Linked DNA regions of Homo sapiens. The protein of the gene in region 2 interacts with the protein of the main gene of each other region in a pairwise test. Each region holds a gene or a part of one and is shown on either strand. Other genes may lie near its edges. The genes, in order: LAPTM4B, CGRRF1, SCAMP4 and UBE2U.

Region 1 (3,567 bases), on a different chromosome or scaffold from region 2:
AGGTTGCAGTGAGCCGAGATCGCACCTCTGCACTCCAGCCTAGGTGACAGAGTGAGACTCTGTCTCAACAACAACAACAACAAGACGGGGTCTCACTCTGTCACCCAGGCTGAAGTACAGTGCTGCTATCATAGCACACTACAGCCTCACACTCCCAGCTCAAACAATCTTCTCACTTCAGCCTCCCAAAGTGTTGGGATCACAGGTGTGAGCCATTTCACCTGGCCAACTGGTTTCCAATGAACCACTTTCTTTCTACTCCTTTTCATCACAGTACCTATATGAATTTTCTGCCTCAATGCAGCTTTCCCAAGTTTACTGAGGCATGATTTTTGAAGAATGACATAATTTTATGCCAAAATTAAGACAATGAAAGGCATTGAGATTCAAAAATTCAAAGTATGCTGGGTGCAGTGGTTCACACCTGTAATCCCAAAACTTTGGGAAACCAAGGCAGGAGGCAGCCTAGACTACAGGGAGAGACCCTACCTCAAAAAAAAAAAAAAAAGAAAGAAAGAAAAATAAATAAAAAAAGAAAAAAGTTGAAAGCATAAAGAGCCATGAGAGTTTTCTACCCATTAGTAGCTCATAAGCACAAGTTATAATGATGGTTTTATAAACAGATTGACCAAGATGAAAAAGAATTTGCAGCAATTGATTGATAAGGGTGAGGCACTGCTGCAGGAAGTAGAAGTCATTTAACTTTGGGGGACATCAATTTGACAACCTATCAAAGGCTTTCCAACCATGAACACCCTGATTTTAAGAAATTTATCTTGAAGCCGGGCACAGTGGCTCATGCCTGTAATCCCAGCTTTGGGAGGCCGAGGTGGGCGGATCATGAGGTCAGGAGATCGAGACCATCCTGGCTAACACAGTGAAACCCCATCTCTACTAAAAATACAAAAAAATTTGCTGGGCATGGTGGCGGGTATCTGTGGTCCCACCTACTGGGGAGGCTGAGGCAAGATAATGGCGTGAAGCCGGGAGGCGAAGCTCGCAGTAAGCCGAGGTTGCGCCACTGCACTCCAACCTGGGCGACAGAGCGAGACTCCATCTCAAAAAAAAAAAAAAAAAAAAAAAAAGGAAATTTATCTTGAGATAAATGCATAAATATAAGGATGTACTTAAATATATTCACTACAGCCCTATTAAGTGAAAAAGTAAAAAATGTCTCAATGCTCATCAAGTAATTTATTAAATAATGATATTCATATAATGGATTGAGATAGAACAATATTCAGAAAATATTACACTTTTAGCAAAAAATTACAAAAGAATATCCATTACACAGACCTTGTAACAGACGTTGCAATATCATATACTATGTAATGTATAACATTATGTTAACTTATCTCTGTCCAAATATATTTTGGACTCCTTGATCAAACTGTGGAATTTTGATTAGTGTTTACCTCCAACATAGACAGCATAAAGAATTGTAATCTTAGGAAATCAAAAAGCAATTTGGATGTCCAAAGAAAGACAATAAACTGACCAAAGTTTGTTTACTTATTTGGTATTCAGGAATACACTTAATATTTTTAGACTATAAGTAAAATCTTCATGCTTACCTTAAAAGTCAAGATAATGCTAATAAACAGAAGAATAATAAGGACCAAACAGGTAGGATTCACTGACATGACATCATCTCTGTAGGGAAAATTAGGAGGCTGCAAAAGAAAAGGGCCTCATTAGCAAATCTCATTAATCATTCCAGACAGTATTCCTTGGGCACCAATTCAGACATGCTTATCAGAAAGCAACTGATTAAAGCAGACAGCTATTATTTAGAACCAATACAAAATTTCTAGCCTGACTCTGCCCTCTTACCATATAAAAGACGTCAGTGATCGGTATCCAGGGACATTTTGTATATCCAGGGATCTCTGAAATTTGTATTCTCTGCAAGTTCTGAACCATTCCTTTTTTTTTTTTTTTTCTTTTTTGAGATGGAGTTTCTCTCTGTCGCCCAGCTCAGCTACTTGGGAGGCTGGGGTGAGCAAATCACTTGAGCCCTGGTGGTGGAGGTTGCAGTGAGCGAGATCATGCCACTGCACTCCAGCCGCCCGGGCGACAGAGCCAGACCATGTCTCAAAAGTTCTGAACCATTCTAAAGGGCATATGCAGGGCAAGGGACAGAAACCTACTAAAATGAGGTCTTCTTTGCAAAGAGCATTTTTGTTGATGGTACTTCTCCCAAGACAGCATATTCTCTTATACTAGCAAGTACTTCCAGGGTGGGGGGAAATAATCAAGCACTACCATCCACAATGCTTAACAACCAGGTCAAAGGGAACCTTTTCAGGAGGATCAAAGTCTGCTACTATGGTTAGAGGGAGTTGCCGGACTTTCCCCACAGAACACTCACACAGCATTGATCAACGCCTACATCACTGGCCTAGGCAAGTGAATGGGAAGGCAGCCTACTGTGCTATCTCATCTTTTATCTCCCTTCACCATTCAACACTATGTGTTTGGATTCCTCACGAGCAATATTCCAAAACAAAGTTGTTTCCAATGTTGAGGAAGAACATGGAGAAGGCCCATGACTCATGGGCTTGGCTCCTGCTCACCAGGGTGAACACCACCTAATGGTTTTCAGTCTCCTTTCACTTGGGACAAAATATCTAAGAAATAAAATCGTCATTCTTTGTGATCAGATCATGCAACTTTACTCTTTTATTAATAAAATAACTTGGCCAAGCACAGTGGCTCATGCCTGTAATTTCAGCACTTTGGGAGGCTGAGGCAGGCAGATTGCTTGAGTGCAGGTGTTTGAGACCAGCCTGGACAACATAGTCAAACCCCATCTCTACTAAAAATACAAATTTAGCCGGGCATGGTGGTGCATGTCTGTAGTCCAAACTACTTGGGAGGCTAAGGTGGAAGGATCACTTGAGCCCAGAAGATTGAGGTTGCAGGCTGGGCATGGTGGCTCACGCCTGTAATCTCAGCACTTTGGGAGGCCAAGGTGGGCGGATCACCTGAGGTCAGGAGTTCGAGACCAGCCTGGTCAACATGGCAAAACCCCACCTCTACTAAAAAAAAAATACAAAAATTAGCCAGGCATGGTAGTGGGCGCCTGTATTCCTAGCACTCTGGGAGGCCGATGAGGGTGGATCCTCTGAGGCTAAATGTTTGAGACCAGCCTGGAAAAGATGGTGAAACCCCATCTCTACTAAAAATACAAAAAATTAGCCAGGCTTGGTAGCGGGTGCCTGTAATCCCAGCTACTCAGGAGACTGAGGCAGGAGAATGGCTTGAACCCAGGGAGGCGGAGGTTGCAGTGAGCCGAGATCACAACACTGCACTCCAGCCTAGGTGATAGAGTGAGACTCTGTCTCAAAAAAAAAAAAAAAAAAAAGTAAAGTTGGCCTGGTACAGTGAGTCACATCTATAATGCCAGCACTTTGGGAGGCCAAGGCTGGAGGATCACTTGAGTCTAGGAGTTTGAGACAAGCCTGGGCAACATGGTGAAACCCCATCTCTACATAAGATACAAAAAGAAAAATTAGGTGGGCATGGTGGTGCATGCCTATAGTGCCAGCTACTCAAGAGGTTGAG
Region 2 (3,567 bases):
TGCTTTGGAAAAATATAGGTATAGAATTCTAGATTGACAAGATTTTTTTCCTGTTAGTTCTTTAAAGATATTCTGCCTTCCATTGCTTCTTATTAATATTAAAAAGCTACTGACATTCTTATCTTTGTTCCTCTATGTGTAGTATATCTTTTTTTCCTTTTCTTTGGCTACCGTAGCATATCTTCTTTCTTTTTCTTAGGATTTTCTCTATATTACTGGTTTTAAGCAATTTGATTATTATGTGCCTTAGGTAATTTTCCTTGTTTCTTGTGCTTGGAGCTCATTGAGATTCTTGGGTCTGTAGGTTTTTATAGTTTTCAACATGTTGGGGAAGGTTTTCGCCATTATGTGTTCAAATACTTTATCTGTCCTCTGCAAACTTCAGTGATATGTTAAGACTTCAGTTACATGGCTGACTAAAAGTTGGCTTACTGATGCTTTTTGTTGTTGTTGTTGTTCAGTCTTTTTCCTTTCTGTGTTTCAATTTCAGTACTTTCTGTTATGTTGTCTTCAAGATTACTAATCTTTTATTGTGCAATACCTAATCTGCTGTTAATCTCATCCACTATATTTTTTATCTAAAACATTATCTTTTTCATCTCTAAATATTGATTTGGGCCTTTTAAATATCTTCCATGCCTCTATATCATATGTGCAGTCATTACTTTTCTTCTGAAACATATGGAATATAGTCCTAGGAGCTATTTTTATATCCTTGTCTACTAATTCAAGTATCTGTATGATTTCTGGATCTATTTCTATAGAGTTTTGCTCCTCATTGTGGGTACTGTTTTCCTGCTCTTTGCATGCCTGTTAATGTTTTTTTATCAGATGCTATACTTTGTGAATTTTACCTTACTAGGTGCTGGATATTTTTGTATTCCTCTAAATATTCTTGAGCTTTATTCTGGGTCACTGTTAAGTTACTCAGAAATAGTTTAGTCTGTTAGAGGCTTGCTTTTCAGCTTTGTTAGGCAGGACCAGAGCAGTCTTACCCAACTCTTTTATAAAATCAGAGTCATCAAAAGTGAATTTTTATTTCATTTGTTAATTTTATTGGTTATCTTTCAGTGTTAGACTTGTGTGTTTTGAAACTTTAGTTTTCAACCTAAATTTTAGTGGAAGATTCGTTTTGTTTTGTTACTTTTCTCCCTTTGTTATCACCCTCACTGTTTATCCACTTTGCAATTATTATTATTATTATTATTTTTAGTTGAGTATTTTATTTTATTTTTTCCTTCAACTTTTAAGTTCTGGGGTACATGTGCAGGATGTGCAGGTTTGTTACATAGGTAAATGTGTGCCATGGTGGTTAGCTGCACAGATCAACCATTCACCTTGATATTAAGCCCAGCATCCATTAGCTATTCTTGATGCTCTCCCTCCCCCAGCTCCCACCCTGATGGGCCCCAGTCTGTGTTGTTTCCCCTCCATGTGTCCATGTGTTCTCACTGTCTGCTCCCACTTACAAGTGAGAATATGCAATGTTTGATTTTCTGTTCTTGCATTAGTTTGCTGAGGATAATGGCTTCCAGCTTGACGCATTTTCCTGCAAAGGACATGACCTTGTTCCTTTTTATGGCTGCATAGTATTCTGTGGTGCATATGTACCACATTTTCTTCATCCAGTCTATCACTAATGGGCATTTGGGTTGATTCCATGTCTTTGCTATTGTGACTAGTGCTGAAATTAATATATGCATGCATGTATCTTTATAATAGAATGATTTATATTCCTTTGGGTATATACTCAGTAATAGGATTGCTGGGTCAAATGGTATTTCTGCCTCTAGATTTTTGAGGAATTGCCATACTGTCTTCCACAATAGTTGAACTAATTTATATTCCCACCAACAGTGCAAAAGTGTTTCTTTTAGGCCAGGCGCAGTGGCTCATGCCTGTAATCCTAGCACTTTGGGAGGCCGAGGTGGGCAGATCACCTGAGGTCGGGAGCTTGAGACCAGCCTGACCAACATGGAGAAATCCCGTCTCTACTAAAAATACAAAAAAAAATTAGCCAGGCGTGGTGGTGCATGCCTGGAATCCCAGCTACTTGGGAGGCTGAGGCAGGAGAATCACTTGAACCCAGGAGGTGGAGGTTGCGGTGAGCTGAGATCATGCCATTGCAGTCCAGCCTGGGCAACAAGAGCGAAACTCCATCTCAAAAAAAAAAAAGAAAAAAAAAAGTGTTTCTTTTTCTCCACAACTTTGCCAAGATCTGTTGTTTCTGGATTTTTTTAATAATTGCCATTATGACTGGCGTGAAATGGTATCTCATTGTGGTTTTGATTTGCATTTCTCTAATGATCAGTGATGTTGAGCTGTTTTTCACATGTTTGTTGGCTGCATGAATGTCTTTTAAGAAGTGTCTGTTCATGTGGTTTGCCTACTTTTTAATGGGGTTGTTTTTTTCTTGTAAATTTGTTTAAGTTCCTTGTAGACTCTGGATATTAGACCTTTGTCAGATGGATAGATTGCAAAAACATTTTATATTCATTTATACCCAGATTCCTAGACCTCCAGACCAGGACTAGGTTTTTGTTGTTTTGTTTTGTTTTGTTTTGTTTTGTTTGGGACGGAGTTTCACTCTTGTTGCCCAGGCTGGAGTACAATGGCATGATCTCGGCTCTCTGCAACCTCTGCCTCCTGGGTTCAAGCAATTCTCCTGCCTCAGCCTCCCAAGTAGCTGGGATTACAGGCATGCACCACCATGCCCAGCTAATTTTTTTTGTATTTTTAGTAGAGACGGGGTTTCTCCATGTTGTTCAAGCTGGTCTTGAACTCCCGACCTCGGGTGATCTGCCCACCTTGGCCTCCCAAAATGTTGGGATCACAGGCGTGAGCTACTGTGCCTGGCCTTTTTTTTTTGAGACAGAATCTCTCTGTGTTGCCCAGGCTGGAGTGCAGTGGCACAATCTCTGCTTACTGCAGTCTTGACCTCCCAGGCTCAAGCGATCCTTCCACCTCAGCCTCTTAAGTAGCTGGGACCACAGGTGTACACCACCATGCCCAACTAATTTTCCATTTTTTTTTTTTTTTTTTTGTAGAGATGGGGTCTCGCTATTGTTGCCCAGACTGGTGTCGAACTCCTGGGCTCAAGCATTCCTCCCTCCTCAGCCTCCCAAAGTTCTGGGATTATGGGCAGGAGCCAGTGCACCCAGCCTAGGACCAAGTCTTATAACGACAGTTCTGCGTATTTTTGTATTGACCTAATCCAGCTCCTGGTTCCAAGTTATAAACCTGGCTCTGGCCCTTGTCTGGAGAAGACAGCCTATGCTGGTCTCCTTAGTACATGAAGGCTTGGTTGCCACTGTCTGCTGCCAGACTGAGAACCATGAAACCATGGCATAGCCTTACTCATTACTTTGTTTCTTTGCTTTTTTTGGATCCATAAAGGTATTTGTTCCCAGCATTTTATTATAAAAATTTTCAAACATACAGAATACTAGAAAGAATTACACAGTGAACACACATCTGCCCATCACTTAGATTCTACAATCAGCATTTTACTGTAATTTCTCTATTACATATCTGTCCACATTAATCCACTCTTTTATCCATACATTG
Region 3 (3,567 bases), on a different chromosome or scaffold from region 2:
TCCCTCCCCAGAGCCGACAGCTCCTTTAATTTCATGGCGTTTTTCTTCATCTTCGGAGCCCAGTTTGTCCTGACCGTCATCCAGGCGATTGGCTTCTCCGGCTGGGGCGCGTGGTAAGCCTCTCTCTGATGGGCGTGGTGGCTGTGATGTGGCTCAGCTGCCAGGTTGTGGGCCTGCTGGGAAGCCAGGCGGCCACCGGAGCGTGCTGGTCCGGGATTGTACGCGCTCTCCTAGGGAGGGGTCTGAGCTCACCCTGGCAGCGCCCGCGTCCTCGCCAGCGCCCGCGTCCTCGCCAGCACCCAGCCATGGTTCGCGATTGTAGGCACTCTCCTAGGGAGGGGTCCGAGCTCGCCCTGGCAGTGCCTGCGTCCTCGCCAGCGCCCAGCCAGGCTTGTCTCCTGAGTGTTGATCACACCCCTGACCCGGGGTCTGGGAGCCAGTTCCTGGCTGCTGATGTTTCTGCACGGATCGCTGCAGGAGGAAGACCTGTACATCTGTAAAAACACACATACCTGGTGCTGTTACCACACCTGAGAAACTCACAGTCACTCTCTAAGGCTGCCAGGTGCCCAGAAGTGTTTGTGTTGGTGTCTTAAATTTCTGCCTTTTTTCTTTTCTTTTTTTTTTTTTTTTTTTTGAGACAGAGTCTTGCTCTGTCACCCAGGCTGGGGCGCAGTGGTGCAATCTCAGCTCACTGCAACCTCCACATCCTGGGTTCAAGCAATTCTCCTGCCTCAGCCTCCCGAGTAGCTGGGACTACAGGCGCCCGCCACCACGCCTGGCTAATTTCTTTTGTATTTTAGTAGAGACGGGGTTTCACCGTGTTGCCCAGGCTGGTATCGAACTCCCGAGCTCAGGCAATCCGCCTTTCTCAGCCTCCCAAAGTGCTAGGATTACAGGTGTGAGCCACTGCACCCGGCCCTTTTTTTAAACTATTATTATTTTTTTTTGAGATGGAGTCGCTCTCTGTCACTCAGGCTGGGGTGCAGTGACATGATCTTGGCTCACTGCAACCTTCACCTCCCAGGTTCAAGCGATTCTCCTGCCTCAGCCTCCCGAGTAGCTGGGACTACAGGTGTGTGCCCCCACACCCAGCAAATTTTTGTATTTTTAGTAAGAGACGGGGTTTCACCATGTGTTGGTCAGGCTGGTCTGAAACTCCTAACCTCGTGATCCACCCGCCTCGGCCTCCCAAAGTGCTGGGATTACAGGCGTGAGCCACTGTGCCTGGCCAAATTTGTGGCTTTTTAAATAGGCTTTTTATTTTGGAATAATTTGTAATTCTCAGTTGCAGAGAGTGACTGTTCTCGCCCACGTCCCCGACGTGTCTCCCTTGTCCTTGGCACGGCGGGAGCTCCCCACGGGTGACGCTGCTCACGGAGCCGTGGGTGCCTTTGGTTTCCTGGGCTCCCATTAGCAAGCTCCTGTTCTGGGGTTCCTGCCCCACAAGACTGCGGTACTCTCACGCCAGTGCACAGATCAGAATCCAGATAAGGTCCCAGGTTTCCTGGGATGGTGACTCCTCTCCCTTCAGGGCCCCTCGATCTGCAGGCCTCTCCCCTCCTGCACCTGCGCCTGGCGCCAGGCCCTCCAGGGTGGCTGGGATCTGTGGTTTGTGCACCCCTCGGATGTGCCGCTGAAGCTGGTCTGTCACCTGCCACCCCAAGAGCCTGAGTGACGTTGCCCCAGGGATCTGAGTTAGAGTCATAGTGAGCGTGTGCCTGGGACTCCCAGCTCTGCCAGCCTTTGGGGTGCTTCCCCCTCCTGCAGAGGCTGTGGCTGCAGGTCAAGGCACTGCTCGTCATCCTCCGAGTCCTCCTGAGCTCCCAGCTGCCAGCTCGGCTCCCACTGGCCCTTCCCTGGGCTCCAGTGCCTCCTGTGAGCCGCCTCCCCGGTGCGTCCCCAGCTCTCCCAGGCTGAGCTGGGTGGACAGGCCTGTGCCCGTGTTGGGTGGTCCTGAGATCCCGGCATGAGGTGAGTGCCCACATGTGACCCTCAGAGACCTCCCTGCCCCCTCGGCCCTCGTGCACGTGCGGCAGCAGCGACTTGGCTCTTCTCATTGGAGCCTGGGTCATCTCCCGCAGGTCACGGGAGAAGCTGAGCATGCGGTCCCTGCCCGAGGTGGACAGAAGGTGAACGCTCTTGAGAAAGAAACCCAGCGGGTCTTAGGAGAGCCCGGCCCCCCTTGTAATGAGAGAAATCAAACCACAGCGCACAGCGACTTCATGTCCACCGTTGGCTTAGTGAGGCCCCACGCTCAGTGCGCTGCTGTGGGGCGAGAGGGGACAGCCCCGCTCTCCCTGTCCTGGGCGGCTTCACCAGCGCCACCTCCCCACACACTCTGTGCACTGCTGTGGGGCAAGAGGCGACAGCCCCGCTCTCCCTGCCCCGGGCAGCTTCACCAGCGTCACCTCCCCAGGGGTGACGCATGCCCGAGGCCATGAGCCACGGCAGCATCTGTGGTGGCAGAGGACTGGAAACTCCAGAGAAATGACCCCCAGCGGGGCCTAGCTGTGTAGATGGTGAGGGTGGCCACATGGCGGCAGCCAGGTACTGAGGACACGGTGCAGCAGGGGCCCCCGGTGGGCCCCGCCAGGAATCGGACATCAGCGGGCGCCGCAGCCTCTAAGCGGAGCATGCAGCCCACTGACAGTGTGCTGGGTGCCTCCCTAGACCTGACACTTGCATGCGGGGGCGTGCGATGCTGGCCAGTGGGAAGCTGCGGGGGCGGCGGCAGGAGTCCTCAAATGCCTTTGCCGCTTTTCATAAATCTAAAATTACATCCAAACAGAGGTTTACTTTTTTAAAAAATAAAAGAGGCCAGGCATGGTGGCTGACGCCTGTAATCCCAGCGCTTTGGGAGGCCAAAGCAGGAGAATCACTGCTTGAGGCCAGGAGTTCAGACTGGCCTGGGCAACATAGGGAGAAACCATCTCTCCAGAAAAAAAAAAAGAGGAAGGAATGACCCAAAGACCATGCAGCCTGTGATGCTGTGGAGGCTCCAAGCAGGCGAACACAGGACAGGCCAGCATCTTGCAGGGACGCGGCGGGGGGTACCGCGTGTGCGTGCATATCACGCCCCGTGCATGTGTGTGCATAAGCTCCCCGGACACATCCGGGGGTGTGGGTCCTGCGGGCTGCCTGTGCACCAGGGAGGGGAGTCAGCAGGAGAGAGACTGTACGTCGTGCCTGCCTTTAAGTTCCCTGAATTTTAAACCCTGTGGTTTCATCACCTGTTAAGACAAAAATCTCAAAATGACTGTTTTCTGCCTCCTGGGTCTCAAAGGCAGGTGCAATGCCCAGAGGCTGGTCCTGCACAGAGGGACCCAGGGCGTGCTGGCCTTCCCAGTGTCCCACTGGTGGCTGATCTAAGCAGTGCTTTCCCTCGTTTTTTTATTTTGAGACAGAATCTTGCTCTGTCCCCCAGGCTGGAGAGCAACGGCACGATCTCGGCTCACTGCAGCCTCCCGCTTCAGCCTCCCAGATAGCTGGGATTACAGGCATGCGCCCTCATGCCTGGCTAATTTTTGTATTTTTAGTAGAGACGGGGTTTCACCTTGTTGGTCA
Region 4 (4,238 bases), on a different chromosome or scaffold from region 2:
ATGACCCTGCCAAATCCCCCTCTGCGAGAAACACCCAAGAATGATCAATAAAATAAATAAATAAATAAATAAATAAATAAATAAATCAGAGCATGACACTCTCCTGTTTAAACCCATTAAATGGATTCCCATAGCTATTCAAATAAAGCCCAAACTTCCTACTGTATAGTGCCCATCTTTATCACACCCCTCCCAGGCTCCTCCACAACCTCCCTGACCTTCCCTTGTTCCCTTTTCAAGACAAGCTCTTTCCTGACTCAAAAATATCTTGTTTTCCTCTTCCTAGAACTCTCTGCCCTCAATATTTCATGTAGCAGGCTCCTTCTCATCTTTCATGTATGAGTTCAAAACCCCATTCCTTACAGAGGCATTTCCTGACTACCATTTCTAATCCTTAATGACCTACCCCAATCTCTATCATGGTACTGTTTTATTATTGTCCACATAACGTTTATCACCATCTGAAATCATGATTTTTGTTTTGCATACTTGTTTATTGTATATTGGAGCCATAAAGACATTTACTTCATTTGAATCTTTCAAGTAAAAAAAAAGTATTTAATAAATATTTGTAAAATGAATGGACTAAATGAACATCCGGATTCTATAAAATTAGTAAGTAAAAAGTAAAAAAAGAAAGTATTCTGAACAAAGATGCCAGGCTTTGTAGTTGGCGCTGGCAATGGAACCGTGTCTTTCAGTAGTTCCCACTCTGGTGAAGACAATAGACAATTGTGATGCCGTATGGCAAATGTTAACTAGGAGGCAAATAGAAGGTCCTGTGGGATCACAAAAGAAAGGATCCCTTAAAGAGTCGTTAAAATCTGAAGGATGAGTGAGTGAAGGGGAAATGAGGGCTGAAGGGGTGGAAGGAATGTGGTAAACTCCTAGGTAGAAGGAACAGCAGGTGCGAAACTGTGCGGGAAGAGATGGGAATCAGAGAAATTTTAAGCAGTTCCCTGTTCCTGGAGCACTTTCCCAGGGTGATTGTAGGGTTTGATGACATAATAGCATGCACACTACTGTGAATGGTAACTCGCCATGTAAGTTAAGATATTGTTATGCAGACCTGTACCTACCAGTCACTTACTATATCTTTTGATAGTCAAAGAAAAAGGAAGGATAATTTCGAAGAAAGACTTCGTGGGACGGCTTCTGTGACTTACATGCTGGGTCCTGGGACCTCACCCCATCCTCTACACTAGTTTTGTACAGTCCATGTTCGTGGCCTGAGAAGGCGTGGTGTTGCCTTGACCACGAATCTCATTGGCCTTTCAAAGGGGAAACTGTTGTAGGATTGGCTGTGGAGATAGCAAGAGGCCTGCCCCCTGTCGCTGATTGGGTGAGAGCGGCCAACCCCCTGCCTCCGTCTCTCGGCGGCCCCACGGGGGCCTGTTGGTTGGCAACCGATTTGCTTCCTCCGGTGCGTGGCTGCGGGGTTGCACCTGTGAAGCGAAGACAACCTGCTAGGACCCTGATAGGCGTACACCTCTCACTCCCACTCACGCGCCGACGACATGGGCTTGTCTCCGTTACTCATCCAAGTTTGTCTTGAGACTGGGCTGTGAGCCGGCACTGCAGTGAAACGCCGCAGATGAGGAAGTGCCCAAGTCTTCCTTCGGGAAGTTCTCGTTTAGAGGAGTCAGGAGAAAAAGTCATTGTTATATCCCAACTTTAGAAGCCGCTTATCTTGGTACCGTTCTGAGGTTCTAGAAAGCAAGTAACTTATATCAGTTTACTAAGTGTGGGAAAGTGACCCATAACTTCAAACATCTGCCTCAGAGTAAACCTGAGGCATTTGGGGACAAGTGTCAGACCCTCCGCTGCCTATCATGCACGGCAGAGCTTACCTCTTGCTGCACAGAGACTTCTGTGATCTCAAGGAGAACAATTATAAGGTAAGTACTGGGCACGTGGAGAGATGTGTTTCATTGTGCAATAATTTTTAAGAGGCAGTTTAACCCATTTTATTCTATAAGTAGTAATTTAGTTAAACCTGATTTGCCACTACAGTATTGTTATTTAATAAATCCATTTCACTGAAGTAATGTGTTTCATATTAATAACAATTATTATTACTTCAAAATAATAATGCTTAACAATATTGAACATATTATGCAGAGTAATTTATGTGGATCTAGGCACTGAATATCAGGGTCTGTCATGTAGTTAGTGACTAGTAGGTGCAGGCTTATGCTCATTAATTATAATACTATACAATAAGTAGTATTTCATTTTACTTACCAAAAACCTAAGCCTCAGAAATATTCTGTAAAGATTTTGCCCCATGATTCCATTACAGGGTTTTTGGACTTCAAAGCCCTAGTTCTTAATTCCTGTGTTCCACTGCTTACTGTCTAGTGTACTTTTACCAGCATGACACATAAATGCCTTCCCTTTATAGTTTTAACACAAAAGAAGCAATGTCCTTGGGCTTAAACGCCACCAATGAGGTTATCAATGTCCATGGCTGCCACAGGCTGATTTACGGAAAATGAAAAATGGAAGAGGGGGCGAAGAGGGAGTGCTTAAGAGAAAGAACAGAAAGAAAGCTGTCCATGAAAGGTATAGAGTGCTTCCCACAGTTGCTTCAGGTGTAGTTCAGTGGCATTGTTCATTTTTTACCTCTGCTATAAAAGTACTGCATTCACTGGAGATGTTAGGAACAATTATGGAGTCCAACAGCGAACATTCCTGGGGCATGGACCTAACATTTGATATTGTTTCTGCTCATCCTGAGCTCTGTAGTTCTCTGTTGAAAGAGAATCCAATGAAGGAATATGTAAATATAGATAATAGAGAGACAGGGCTCACCCAGACAAGCACTAACATACTTAATAACTATGTGGATGCTCAGAAGTGTTTTTATGTGTTTGTAAGTGTGTTACTTAACGTAATTCATAAGGTTTTCTATGAAATACATTCTTGTCCCTCCATTGGAACAACTCCTCAAGTATAGGAAAACTTTGCTTTTATATACAAGTGTAATTTTGGATTTTTTCTTAATGAAAATGTTCCCACTTCATGCCTTTCATATAGCATTCATATAGCTCTAAAATGTTTTGAAGAAACATGCACTTTCCAACTATTTCTTTCTTTTAAAATTTGAATATTAAATTGGTTATTGATTTACACAAACAGTATATAAGCCACACATTCTAATCTTGACTCTCTAGTCCCACTTGTGATTTCCACACTTATGATTTATTTTTAATTACTATTGCATATGTTTTCTGGGATCTATATTAACTTCCGTGAAATAAGACATGTAACACTTCCCCAGAGCAGCAAATAAATAAACTTATCAAGGAAAGAAAATTTAGAGTTTTTAGAATTCAGTGTGACCTGGTATATGATTTTCAAAACTTCAATAAATACTTAATAAGTTTTTTCTGATTTAATTTTGTTTTTAACTTCAAGGGTATCACTGCTAAGCCTGTAAGTGAAGATATGATGGAATGGGAAGTTGAAATTGAAGGTCTACAGAATTCAGTTTGGCAGGGTTTGTATTTTCAAAACCAATCTATTTTTTAAAAAAGTCTTTATACCATTATTAGCCCATCCTCTTTTTATGTAGGATAAGGTCGCATTATATAAATTTCCTGAAATTCTTCTTCATATGCATAAGTTTGCATTATACCAGTTGTCTAAAATTCTAAAAATATTCCCATTTTTTTTATTTATGACTTTTTTGCCATGTGTCAACATAGATGGAAATTTGGGGTATTTTTCTTTATGCCAAATCTTAATTTTATTACATTTTTAAGAAGCAGACACAATAGAGCATATCAATTGAGAGAATATCGTCTGCCTTCCGTGAGATCAGGGAATAACTATCAAAATTCCTATTGGCTTCAAAACCCCACAGTTACTTCTCATTTTTTCCTTTATGATTTTCCCCCAAATTTTCATAAATCAAAAAATCTCAAGAACACTAAGCCACTATAAACTTTAATGCTCATGTTTTCTTTCAATTATGGATTAATAAGATAGATTCCTTGAGTGAGGTAGGGGAGACAAACACATCAGCTGATAATTACAATAAAATATACATTATTATGGATTTTGAACAGAATGCTAAAGAGGAAGAGGATTAGTTAATTATGCCTGAGGGAGTCAGGAATGTCTTCCCAAGGAGATCACATTTGAGTTGAGTCCTGAAGAATCTGCCAGGTTCAGAAGAAGGATAAGGAAATTCGGGCAGAGTAAACAGCACAGCAAAGACTTGTAGACAAGAA

The links.
Region 1: the proteins of CGRRF1 (region 2) and LAPTM4B interact in binary tests that used the Homo sapiens proteins (3 or more experiments, as listed by UniProt).
Region 3: the proteins of CGRRF1 (region 2) and SCAMP4 interact in binary tests that used the Homo sapiens proteins (3 or more experiments, as listed by UniProt).
Region 4: the proteins of CGRRF1 (region 2) and UBE2U interact in a two-hybrid assay, tested with the Homo sapiens proteins (one large-scale study listed by BioGRID and IntAct).

Annotation. Positions count from the first base shown.
Region 1 is NC_000008.11:97,817,246-97,820,812, reverse strand, and holds part of LAPTM4B (lysosomal-associated transmembrane protein 4B), read right to left. Parts: intron 1,674-3,567; coding exon 1,575-1,673; intron 1-1,574. UniProt on the Homo sapiens protein: Required for optimal lysosomal function. Blocks EGF-stimulated EGFR intraluminal sorting and degradation.
Region 2 is NC_000014.9:54,516,388-54,519,954, forward strand, and holds part of CGRRF1 (cell growth regulator with RING finger domain protein 1), read left to right. Parts: intron 1-3,567. UniProt on the Homo sapiens protein: Able to inhibit growth in several cell lines.
Region 3 is NC_000019.10:1,918,878-1,922,444, forward strand, and holds part of SCAMP4 (secretory carrier-associated membrane protein 4), read left to right. Parts: intron 1-11; coding exon 12-113; intron 114-3,567. UniProt on the Homo sapiens protein: Probably involved in membrane protein trafficking.
Region 4 is NC_000001.11:64,202,219-64,206,456, forward strand, and holds the start of UBE2U (ubiquitin-conjugating enzyme E2 U), read left to right. Parts: upstream 1-1,404; 5' UTR 1,405-1,832; coding exon 1,833-1,898; intron 1,899-2,322; exon of another isoform or gene 2,323-2,565; intron 2,566-3,420; coding exon 3,421-3,502; intron 3,503-4,238. UniProt on the Homo sapiens protein: Catalyzes the covalent attachment of ubiquitin to other proteins.